Linked DNA regions of Homo sapiens: region 2 is linked to region 1. Evidence: fine-mapped expression QTL. A gene starts in region 1. The other region holds a variant in brackets. All regions are shown on one strand. Distances are from middle to middle. Region 1 holds the start of ARHGAP22 (Rho GTPase activating protein 22). Region 2 overlaps ARHGAP22 (Rho GTPase activating protein 22).

Evidence for each region. PIP is the estimated chance that this variant, and not a neighbour inherited with it, causes the effect.
Region 2: its variant is the best candidate, but not a certain one, in a credible set for the expression of ARHGAP22 in whole blood (TOPMed, PIP 0.61).

The regions. Positions count from the first base shown.
Region 1 is chr10:48,602,042-48,607,417 of GRCh38, forward strand. ARHGAP22 (Rho GTPase activating protein 22) reads right to left here and starts at 3,032. Exons shown (of 10, transcript NM_021226.4): 1 at 2,722-3,032. The coding sequence starts at 2,755. RefSeq lists an enhancer at 2,453-3,183 and a silencer at 3,040-3,199.
Region 2 is chr10:48,573,050-48,578,425 of GRCh38, forward strand. All of the region lies in intron 2 of ARHGAP22 (Rho GTPase activating protein 22), which reads right to left. Among named protein-coding and RNA genes, the nearest start is that of ARHGAP22, 29 kb to the right of the region's middle. RefSeq lists enhancers at 1,479-1,980, 4,351-4,400. The variant T/C (reference allele first, on the strand shown) is at 2,446.

The DNA of each region.
Region 1 (5,376 bases):
TTCTACATCTGTCAAAATGGTAACAATGATATCACATTATAGTGTAGTCATGAGAATTAAATGAGGTACAACAAAAGTGCCTGGAGCATGGGTGCACAATAAATGTTGGTTTACTTTCTTGTGGGACAATCACAAGAATAAGGCCATTGAAGGTACTTCATCATATTAATAGAGCTTTCTCTCCCCACCCCCAAAGTATTGACCAGGCTCTGAACATTCATCAAGGCTCCTGAGACATTGACACTCCTGCTACAGGAGATGGTTAAAGCTCCTATAACTTGGCCCATCAGTCTGATGATTTCCTTTAAAAGAAGGAGCCTCCTTAATAGCATCAACAATTTTATTTTGAAATATTGCAAACAAAGACAGAAATTCTAAAAGGAAAATATATACGAGTTAAAAACAGGTACATCTAGAAAAAAAACCCACTCTAATATAAAAATAAAGGGCAAGCAACAAATTGGGAAAATATTTGCAACATATGAGTCAGTGAAAGATGAGGCCAAATTTCCTAAGTACCGGGCCAGCTTGGGTAGAGACAGTGCTCCAGCCACCCAGGCAAATGCTTTCTCCTCTATCCAGCTATTCATCCACTCACTCAAAAAACACAGGTTGAGTGTCCACCAGGTACCTGGCATTGGGGGTATAATGATGTCCCCGAACAGAAATGGTTCCTGCTTTCACGAAGCTCATGGAGCAATGCAAGTGACAGATATTCACCAATCAGTCACACTCAGGAGTATACAACTGCAACCTATGGTAAATACCATAAAGAAAAGGAGAGATGGAGCAGAGGATCCAGCCTGGACTGGGGTGTGTGGGAAGACTTCCCTGGCTGGCAACACTTGAACTATACTATAACTGGAGGGTGAATAGGAATTAAGGTGTGTGTGTATGTTTGTATGCATGAACGCATGTGCACACACATACAGGCATGCATGTGCGCACATGTGAATGTGGGAGGCATTTCAGGGGAAAGAACGATGTGCAAAAGCCCTATGGTGGAAGCCTCATGGAACACTGAGGACTGGAAGAGGGCTGTATGGCTGGCCTATACGCACTAGATGCCAGTAGCACCCCTCAGTTGGAATAACCAAAAATACTCCAAACAATGCCAAATGTTCTCTAGTGGGGCAAATTGCTCCTGGTTGAGAACCATTGACTTAAAACAAACATTTATGAGAAATCCTGGATTTCAAAGACAGGCTGCCTGTAAGCCCCTTTGCTGAAGCACTGGTCTCTTACTAGCACTGTCCAATAGAAATATAAAAAATATAATATGAGTCACATATGTACTTGTAAATGTTCTAGTAGCTATAGTAAAAGAATGTAAAACAGGTAAAATTAGTTTTAATAATAGATTTTATTTAACCCAATATATCCAAAATACTGTCATTTCAGTAAAATAATTATTAATGAGATATTGTACATTCTTTTTTTGTACTAAATCATCAAAATTTGGTGTGTCTTTTTCTCAATTTGGACTAGTGACATGCCAAGTGCTTAGTAGCCACATGTGGCCAGTGGCCAGCTCATTACACAGGAGTGGGAGGGTGGAACTAAGCTCTCGCAGAGGTATCTGGCTTGTCCTATCCCTTGGGTCATCACTAGACTTGCCCCCTCCTCAGCAGAGCCATGCAAGTTCCTCCTTTGCCCATTGGGGTACACAGGGTTCAGCCCATGCGAAAGCACCCCACAGAGGGGTCCTGACGTCTGTGGAACACACTGGAAGGCTGGTCCCATCCAGGAAAATCATCCAAGTGCTTGCAGTGTGCTAATAAGATGGGTGTGTTCCCTGTGAATCCACAGGAGGCTGGAGGCCCCCCGCTGCAAACACCTGGTGAGACACAAACTGTTTCCAAGCTCCCAGGCAAATGCTCCATCCACCTCCAAAGACCCATCCTCCACTTCATTGTTTACAAAAGGAGCTCAGCCCTCCCAGATACTGGCCACCTGAAAAGACACATTCTATTTTTGTAAAAGACAGATGTTCTCATTCAAAATGACACTTTCCGTGGCTAAGAAGTTGTTGTCCATGGAGATGCTGTCTCTAGCCCCATACAGTGGCCAAGTCTTCAGGTCACTGTGCTGGGTCGCTGGCTGGACACAGGCTGGCTAGCCCAGTCCTGGACTCTCCTGACCCCCATCTCTTGCTGGTCTGAGTCTGCTCCCGCATCCACCCGTCCTGCCCCCAGACCCTGCAGCTTTCTGAGTGTTCTGGCAGGAAAGCCTGCCTGCCCCTGGCCTGCTTGAGGAAATACTGTCTGCAAAGCAGCGGGAACGAAGACCCTCGCTTGCACCCAGCTGTCTCTAGAAGCCAGGGCATGGCCTTCCCTGGTAAGGGGTGCTTCTGTGTTGGCCACAGGGCAAATCTTGGGCATTTCCTTTTTAGTAAAGAAGCAAAGTTTCCTTAAAGTTGCCACCAGGTCACCTGGAGCGACCGAGGGCCTCTGTAAAATGTGGAATGTGGGGCGAAGTGTGCACACCCACTGGGGCACTAAGCCGGCCACCGCCCTTTTGCAACTTCAGGTCGTGTCCCCACCCAGCCCAGGAGTTTCACGAGGAAGGGCACTTCCTCAGGAGGATGCTCACTATTCAGCGGCAATGGTCCCAGAACGCCCGCCCCATGTGACACATGGCGTGACGGCTGGCCAAGTGTCCGCGCACGTTTGCCAAGAGGCACATGCGGTGCCCAGAGAAACCCCAGAAAGTTGGACTTACCCCTCCTGGCCTGCCTGATCTTTGGGCTCAGCATGTTCTTGCAGCCGTCCGGCCAGCCCCGCAGGGCCGTTCATGCTGTCATCCACTTGCTTTTGCTCGTCCTCGCGCCTAGTCGCCCCTCATGTCCTGCTCGTTCGGGGCCCCGTGGCCGCTGGCGTCACCCGTCAGGCTCCCTCGGCTACCTCTCCTGGCTCCGGACGGACGGCTCGCCTTGGACTACATAAACCTCGATGCATTATTTATCCATCCCAGAATTAATTCCCATCCAAGCGGACCATTAAAGCCTCAGTAATCACTGCTGATCAATCACTGGACCAGGGCGGGGCAGTCCCTCCGCCTGGCCTGGGCGCACGCGTGGCTGTCCAAGCTGAGCGCGGGGGCGGGGCGGGGCCGAGAGGGGCGGGGCCAGCCAGAGACGCGGGGCGCGGTCCTGGCCCGGGAGAGGGTACTGGGGTTCCGGCCATCCTTTGCTGAGGCTGGAAGAAATGCGCCTTTCAGCCGCCGCCTGGGAGCCGCACTCCCTGCCAAGCCCGGGTGGGATAGCGCTTTGGTGAGAAGGTAGCCGAGACCCCCCCCCCACCCCAGAGCCCAATCCACGGGGACCCGCTTATGAGCTCACTGTTTTACGTGTTGAAAGTCAGGTGTGTCTGGGAAGGAGCAAGCAGCCCGGCAATGTAAACTCCTCAGGAGACTCCCAACAGGAAGATGCCTGTTAGGGATACTATTTATGCCTCTTTAGTAAGGTGACAGGAATAAGAGGGCAGGAAGCACTTAACTCAGGGCTCTTCATAGGAAGATCTGAATTGAATAGTGAATCTCTGCTAATTGCCATGTTTCTGTTTGATGCTGGCATAATTTTAAAGGGTGTATACTGGGGCTTTGTGAGGAGCGGAATCCAGCCTCAAGATGCTAAAAATTACCCAAGGAATGCAATCATAACAATAGCTATCATTTATTAGGCACCTACTATGTGTCAGGCACTGAGGCTGGTGCTTTACATTCAATATCTCATTTAACTCTCAAACTCCTGAAGCAGGTGCTATATATATAGCGTTTCAAATCTGGAAAATAAGGCACAGCAAGGTTGAATCACCTGCCCAAAGTCATACAGTACCGAGCAGCAGGGCGGGCACCAGAACCCAGGGCTGTGTCTACAGCTCCTGCTGCTCTGTGATGCCAGCCTCTCCACCCTATTCCCATCACTGCATGGTAACAGCTCCTGGCTTGAGCCCCCGATGAACTTGCTGAACGGTGACCTGCCTCTGTGCCCCTGATAATCACTCCGTGTATCCTCTTAGGCATCTGAGCTTGGGTCTGGCTATTTGGGCCTGAGAACTGTGTGACCCTTTCAGTAGCTGGTAAAGAGGGATTTGAACAATGCCCTCCCCTGCTCAGATGGCCATAGCCTCCATCTGACCCTCCACACTCCCTCGAGTGCCCCATGTCCACAGATCCCCAAGTGTCCTATTGGTATGTAATCAACTTTAGCAGCTGTAGAGGGAGAGAGCCCACCAGGAGATCACTGTGGCAGTCCTCCCTAGGGAACAGTGTGCCCTATGGAGAGGGGAGGACTGCAGAGTAAGAAGAAAGACTCACCAGGATGTGGTGAGCCACATGGCCAAGCTGGTGGGAGAAGGTAGAGTCCATGGACACAAAGCTGTCTTACTCAGCATCAAGTCACTTGTTCTGGTCTTCAGCTACTCCTCAGAGGGATGAATGAGTACCTTGGCATAACATTCCAGGTTCTTTCATGGTAGCATCCATGGACTCCTCTCTGACCTATCTCTTGCCGATGCTCTATACAACCATATGCACATACAGCGCCTGCTCCTGTGTGCCCCAGTGACTTTGCACATGCCTTGCTCCTGTGTGTTCCTGTTCTTGCATGTGCAGCCCCTGCTCTCCTGTGCCTCTGTGTTTTTGCACATGTAGCTGTGTCTTTGCACGTGCAGTTCCCTCTCTCTGGAATGCCCTTCCTCACATTGCCTTGTCCTCTTTGGGCAATTCCCCAATGAAATTCTCCTGATTCCACCAGCAGAATGAGCCACTAAGCACTTCCCCTGGGCCCTTATCTATGTCCCTGTACTGCCCCTCTTGTACGCCCTCCCTGAGCCCCAGGCTGACTCAGGCCAGAAGCCTCACAGGAAACTCTGGCTTCATGGGCAGATCCAAGAAACACCACTGAATGACAGAACTGACCTCCTTTTCCTTTAAGGCCAGGTACAAGCCCTGGTTGGGACAGGGGCCACCCATGAGGAGTGGGGAGAATATCAAGCTAGAAAATCTCATGTCGACACCAGGGTCACAGGGCAAGTCCTGTGGCTTGTGACAATGTCTTGAGCAATCAGGAAGCCATTTGTGAGTAATGCAGCCTGGACCACTTCATCCAAGTCAGAGGCAAGGAAATGCCCTGAGACTTAGTCTGGGTCCACTCACGCTTGTTTTGGTTAAGAAACCACCCCCAGGCGCTTTTCCTGTGCAGCTGTTTTCCCTGATGATATTAAGTCACTGTGTTCACTCGCCTGCTTTTCTGGGGATCAGAGCTGGGCTCACACCCCAGAAGTCAGGCTGGGAAAAGGGCAGGAGTTGATCTACGTTCTGCGTCTGAGAAGGCTGGGGGAATGGGGCAGGTGGGCAAAGTAGCTCTTTTCTCCT
Region 2 (5,376 bases), 29 kb before region 1:
GAGCCTGGTTCATCAGATATATAAAAGTTAGCTTTTATTTAGATTCAAACTGTTGATCAAACTCACGAAGTAAGGCAGAGGCGAGGTTGGAGCCATGTCGCCTGCCCCTAGACTCCACTGTTTGATTGTGTTGAATGATTTGCTAAACCTTCATAGGGTAAAGTTCCACCCAGGGGAGAAGGCCACAACTAGGGTATTTCCTACATGGTTTACCGCATGAGTTTACTCTCACCATAGTCCTATAAGATAGGTGTGGTTATTCTCAACTTACAAGGAGGAAACTGAGGCTCAGAGAGTGAAATATCTTCTCTAGTTACCAGCTAGAACCATCCTGGTTACTCAAGAGAAATCTGCCATTTTTCTCTATCACGCAAGATCCTGTAATATGACATGCTAAAATTTAGACACCAGGTATTCGTGGCAGACTTACCACCCACGAGTCTGGACTCCTAATCAAGAAAGGGAGTGAAGACCATCTGAAGGGCTGGTCTCAGGGAGCTCTGCATGTTCAGGCAATCATTGTTTTCTAGATCTGCAACTTCCTTTTTATAATTCATATTAGATGCCTTCGCATGCTTCTTGAAGGTCTTTCATTTCAGAACCCATTCTAAGAATTGTAATAGTCTTATCTCTGAGTGTTTAGGCAGCATTGACAACACTATCAACCACAGCAACTTCCATTTGTCCAATGCTTAGTGAAGCCACAGCCTCAAAGGACCACACCAAAAGTAGGAACAAGAGGGCTTCAATGATCTTCCCAAATCTATAGCTAGTAGGTGGTATAAATGGGACTTGAAGCCAGGTATTCTGGTTCCAAATATTATGGTTTTTTCCATTATAGTATGCAAGCTTTCATTCTACCTTTTTGAGCCCCACATTCTCTACCAGTACAGTGGAAATTGATTGTGCCTGGCCTTGTGGAGATGCTGTGTGAATGTTTATTGAACAAGTGTTTATTGAGCTTCTACTATGTGTCAGACATTGTTCTGGATACTGAGACACAGAGATAAACAAGATAGACAAAAACCTCACCTTGTTGGGCTTACAGTCTGATAGGGAAGGCAGTCAATAAGCTCTTTGCCAATTCTCAGGCACTTTACAAAAGCAATAAATTATTTTTCCATTGAGGATCTAATACAAATATGGGTCACACTATGCACTCATTCATTCCATTTATTTTTCTCATTTATTCATTCATTCATTCAATTATTCAAGTAAGCACCCAATATTACTGGATACCAATTATGTGTCAAGTACCGCTAGGTGATAGGAAAAGAGAAATAATAAGACAGATTGAAGCCCCACCTGAATGAGGTTTATGATATAGAATGGAGAACAGAAATTAAATTGAGGAAGTGTTATAAATAACAACAGCAATATCAAAACAGTAATGCAATAATAATAGCAGTGACATCCTCTTGGCTGGTTTGAGTAACAATTTACAGCTTATGAAGGATGCACAGTTAGGGCTTGCTAAGTCAACTTGAGCTGGGTGGAGGTTATGAGGTCCAGAAGTGAAGGGCATCTGACACAGGGGCGGTCCTGTGAGCTGTGAGCACAAGATGAGCTCCGACACCTGATGGCATCTTCATCGTACCCCCAGGTGGTGCTGAGATGAGGGCCATGGAAGATAGAGCCAGCCAAAGGTGTGAGGTTTTTGTGGGCAGACATTAATGGCACGGCAGGGGGTTGTCCTAGCAGTCTCACTGAACTTGTGTCAGCTTTCAGGCGCTATCTGAGAGTGAGTACCTGTTAGTCTTGGCCTGATGTCAGTCCTTCAGTTTCCTCATTTGAGAAATGGAGACAACCCAGGCATCTACTCCAGGTCAAGGACTCAGGGAAGGAGCGTGATATGGTTTGGCTCTGTGTCTCCATCCAAATCTCATGTTTAATTGTAATCCCCAGTGTTGGAGGTGGGGCCTGGCGGAAGGTATTTGGATCATGGGGGCGGTTTCTCTTGAGTGGTTAGCACCATCTTCTTGGTGCTGTCCTCAAAATAGAGTGAATTCTCACGAAATCTGGTGGTTTAAAAGTGTGTGTGGCACCTCCCTGCTCTCTCTTTTGCTCCTGCTCTGGCCATGTGACATGACTGCTCCCTCTTTGCCTTCCGCCATGATTCTAAGTTTCCTGAGGCATCTCCAGAAGCTGAGCAGAGGTCAGCATCATGCTTCCTGTACAGCATGCAGAACAATGAGCCAATTAAACCTCTTTAAAAAAAAATTATCCAGTCTCAGGTATTTCTTTATAGCAATGGGAGAATGGAGTAACAGAGTTCATGAAAGCAACATTTTATTTTTTGTTTTTGTTTTTGACGTGCAAGTTTGGTAAACAATGGGGTGGGAAATGAAGATTCCCTGCAGGCTGAAATATTCCTGTGACTTTCAAGTTATGGGATAGGATGGCCTCTCTTTCTTCCCCTGAGGTTTCCTCTTTCTTAAAGATTTC[T/C]GGTTTCCGACTGTCCAATATTAATGTTCCACTCCTAGAAGTGCATGTGCTTTCCCATCCATCTTGACTTTCTCCCCACCAGTCTCAAGCTTTTACTCAATCACATCAAACTTTAAATCAATCTTCTATGGCTCCTTATTGCTGAGCTTCCCTCACTTATTCTCCTGGAAAAAAAATAAAACATACAACAGAAACCTAGCCTGCTCTCAAAGTGATTTTTAAATTGCCTCTTCTAGAACATAATGTTGCATCAGCCATGGCAGGTAGGTGGGAGGGGGAAGTGTGGATTCCAAACTCCACCTGCCATGTTCCCTCCCCTGCTTCTTCCAAGGCCCCCAGCCCTTGTTCCAGCATGGTGAGGATTTTCTTGGCCTCAGCTGATATTAGAACACCAGCCCCATCTAAGTGGCCTTTCTGCTTCCAGCCTGGTCCTGGTCAGCCCCTATCTGTGCTGCTGCAGGATGACTCTCCTCTTGGGGCTCTGATGGCCAAGTATAAGCAACCCACAACCTTCACTGACCCCTATCGCAGCCCACGAAGTGAGGACCTAGATCCTGGGTGTGGCAGTGAAGCCCCTTTACAGGAGTCCTCTAGTCCCACATCTGCATTTTGTGTTCCTGCCTGTAGGATGAGCATCCTATGCCCTACGTCAGAGACTATGGGCTCCCCACTGGGTGTGGACTGCCAGACACATAGCATCCATGGACCTCCCACACATTCCTAGGTTCATTCTAAACACATCTTCCAAGAACCTCCAATATGCCAGGGCCTCTTCAGAGGCCAGCGTGGGGCTCAGTGGCCCTTTCTAGAAGAGGGAGCCCCTGGCCTGGCCTCCCCATTCTCCTCCTGGTCATCCAAAGAACCTCTAGCACTGTGGCCCTGCTGCATTCCGTTTTTTGGTTATAGTTTTTCTTTTCTTGTTTAAATTTTTAAAATACTTTAAAATATGGACTTACATGAAGATAGTCTCAACGTGAGAAATTACAATAACACAGAAAAAATGCAAGCTGACCCTGTTACCAACTCACTCCCCTGCCTCACATCCCTGCCCCATGGCTCTGACTTGTCTTATTTGTATGCTCAAAATCTCAAAAATAAATTATTTCCATCTTATTTCACTTTTTTTTTACAATGAAAGTTTACACTTGCACATAGTTTGAAGAATCAAGAGTTCTACACGGCTTATCATGAGGCAGCAAATTCTTCCCCTGCCATTGCCTGAATCTGTCACCACGTTCTATGGTCTCAGATGAGGTTTCTTTTCTATCTTTCTCCTTTTTTTAAGATATTTATTTCTAATTAGTATGCTTATGTTACTCCTTTTTGATTTTACATTTTAGTCATTGTCTGTGGAATTCCTAGCATGGGCAGTGAGATTTTGCTTTCTGCCCCTTCTCCACTCACCCATCCCTCCCCACACCGCCACCCACCGCCACCCAACCACACACCTTCCCAAATCTCCATGGTAATTTTGGTTATCTCAGTTAGTATTTAGTGTTTATACTCCCATCCTGGGGAGTTTATTTCAAGCATTTCTCTAAAGACTCTTTTTCCTTCATTTCTCTCTTCTCTTTTTCTAAAACTCCTTCTATTCGGACATTGGGTTGTCTCTCTTATTGTCCTCTTCTTCCTAGAAGTGTCAAGTTTTCATCCAACCCTTCTTTGGAGTTTTTTATTCATGATATCTTATTTCTGACTTCTGGGGATCGGTTCCTCCTCTGACTCTTCCGTATTTAGAGATTCTCTCTGAGGATATTACAGTAGTTTTGTATAACAGTTTTCTTCCCCCTGCACAGTATCTGCTGCCTGCAACTTGCTTTTTGTTTTCTTCCTCTTTTTGTCTTGGTTCCTCAAATGAGAGTGTTTCCTCAAATGTCTGCTGAACCAGGCCTATCACTCCCACTTGAGAATGGTTCTCTATGGAGCTGACTGGGTGGCGTCGGAGGATGGGGAGGGCATACACAGGAGGGTCCACCTCCGCCATTTTACTGGAGAACCTCTGGAGAAATTTACTGGAGAAAATTCATCAGTTTCCTTCCTGGGGGCTACTCCTGACTGCTGGGGCTTGGAAACCAAATGTGGATAGAGACTGGGGCCTAAGGAACTGGTCTGCACACTGATGTTCACCCAACCTTCCTGTTCTCTAAGATATTCCACCAAGAAAGGGCCAGAGTCCCCATTATAAAGGGCTCCCTTTTATTCTCAGAGAATACATACAACTCCAGTCTTACAGCTGAGTCGGGGCGGGCAGTCACCTCTTGGCACTGGATTGCTCAGAAAATCTGAGATCTAACTGCTCTTTTTTGGTTTTTTTTTTTTTTTTTTTTTTTTTTTTGGAGACAGAGTCTCGCTCTGCTGCCCAGGCTGAAGTGCAGTAGCGCTTATCTTGTCTCAACCTCTACCTCCCAGGTTCAAGCAAGTCTCCTGTCTCAGCCTCCCGAGTAGCTGGGATTACAGGCATGTGCCAGCACACCCGGCTAATTTTTGTATTTTTAGTAGAAACGGGGTTTCACCATGTTGGCTAGGCTGGTCTCGAACTCCTGACCTCAAATGATCTGCCTGCCTTGGCCTCCCAAAGTGCTGGGACTAGAGGCGTGAGCCACTGCGCCTGGCCCTAACTGCTTTTTTTTAAGTTAACCTTCACCCAGTGCTCCTGTCCTGAGCTCCTTTTTTGCCCTCATTTCCAGAGATATCTAGTCCTGCCAAGCCCCAAGTCTTTGAGGGGTTTTGTTTTGCAAACCAGACAGCTTCCATGCTCTCCTTTGTGCTGGTTTGGGATTTAGCTGTCTTGGATCAGCTAAATAAATCAGCAGCCTCTCCCTCATCTGTTTTCCTGCATCCAGAATGCTTTCTCCCCTCATGTTCTTTCCATCTAGTTGTGCTTGTGCCTTTAAAAACATCCTCTAGTGCTGTATCATGAAGTTTTGTGAT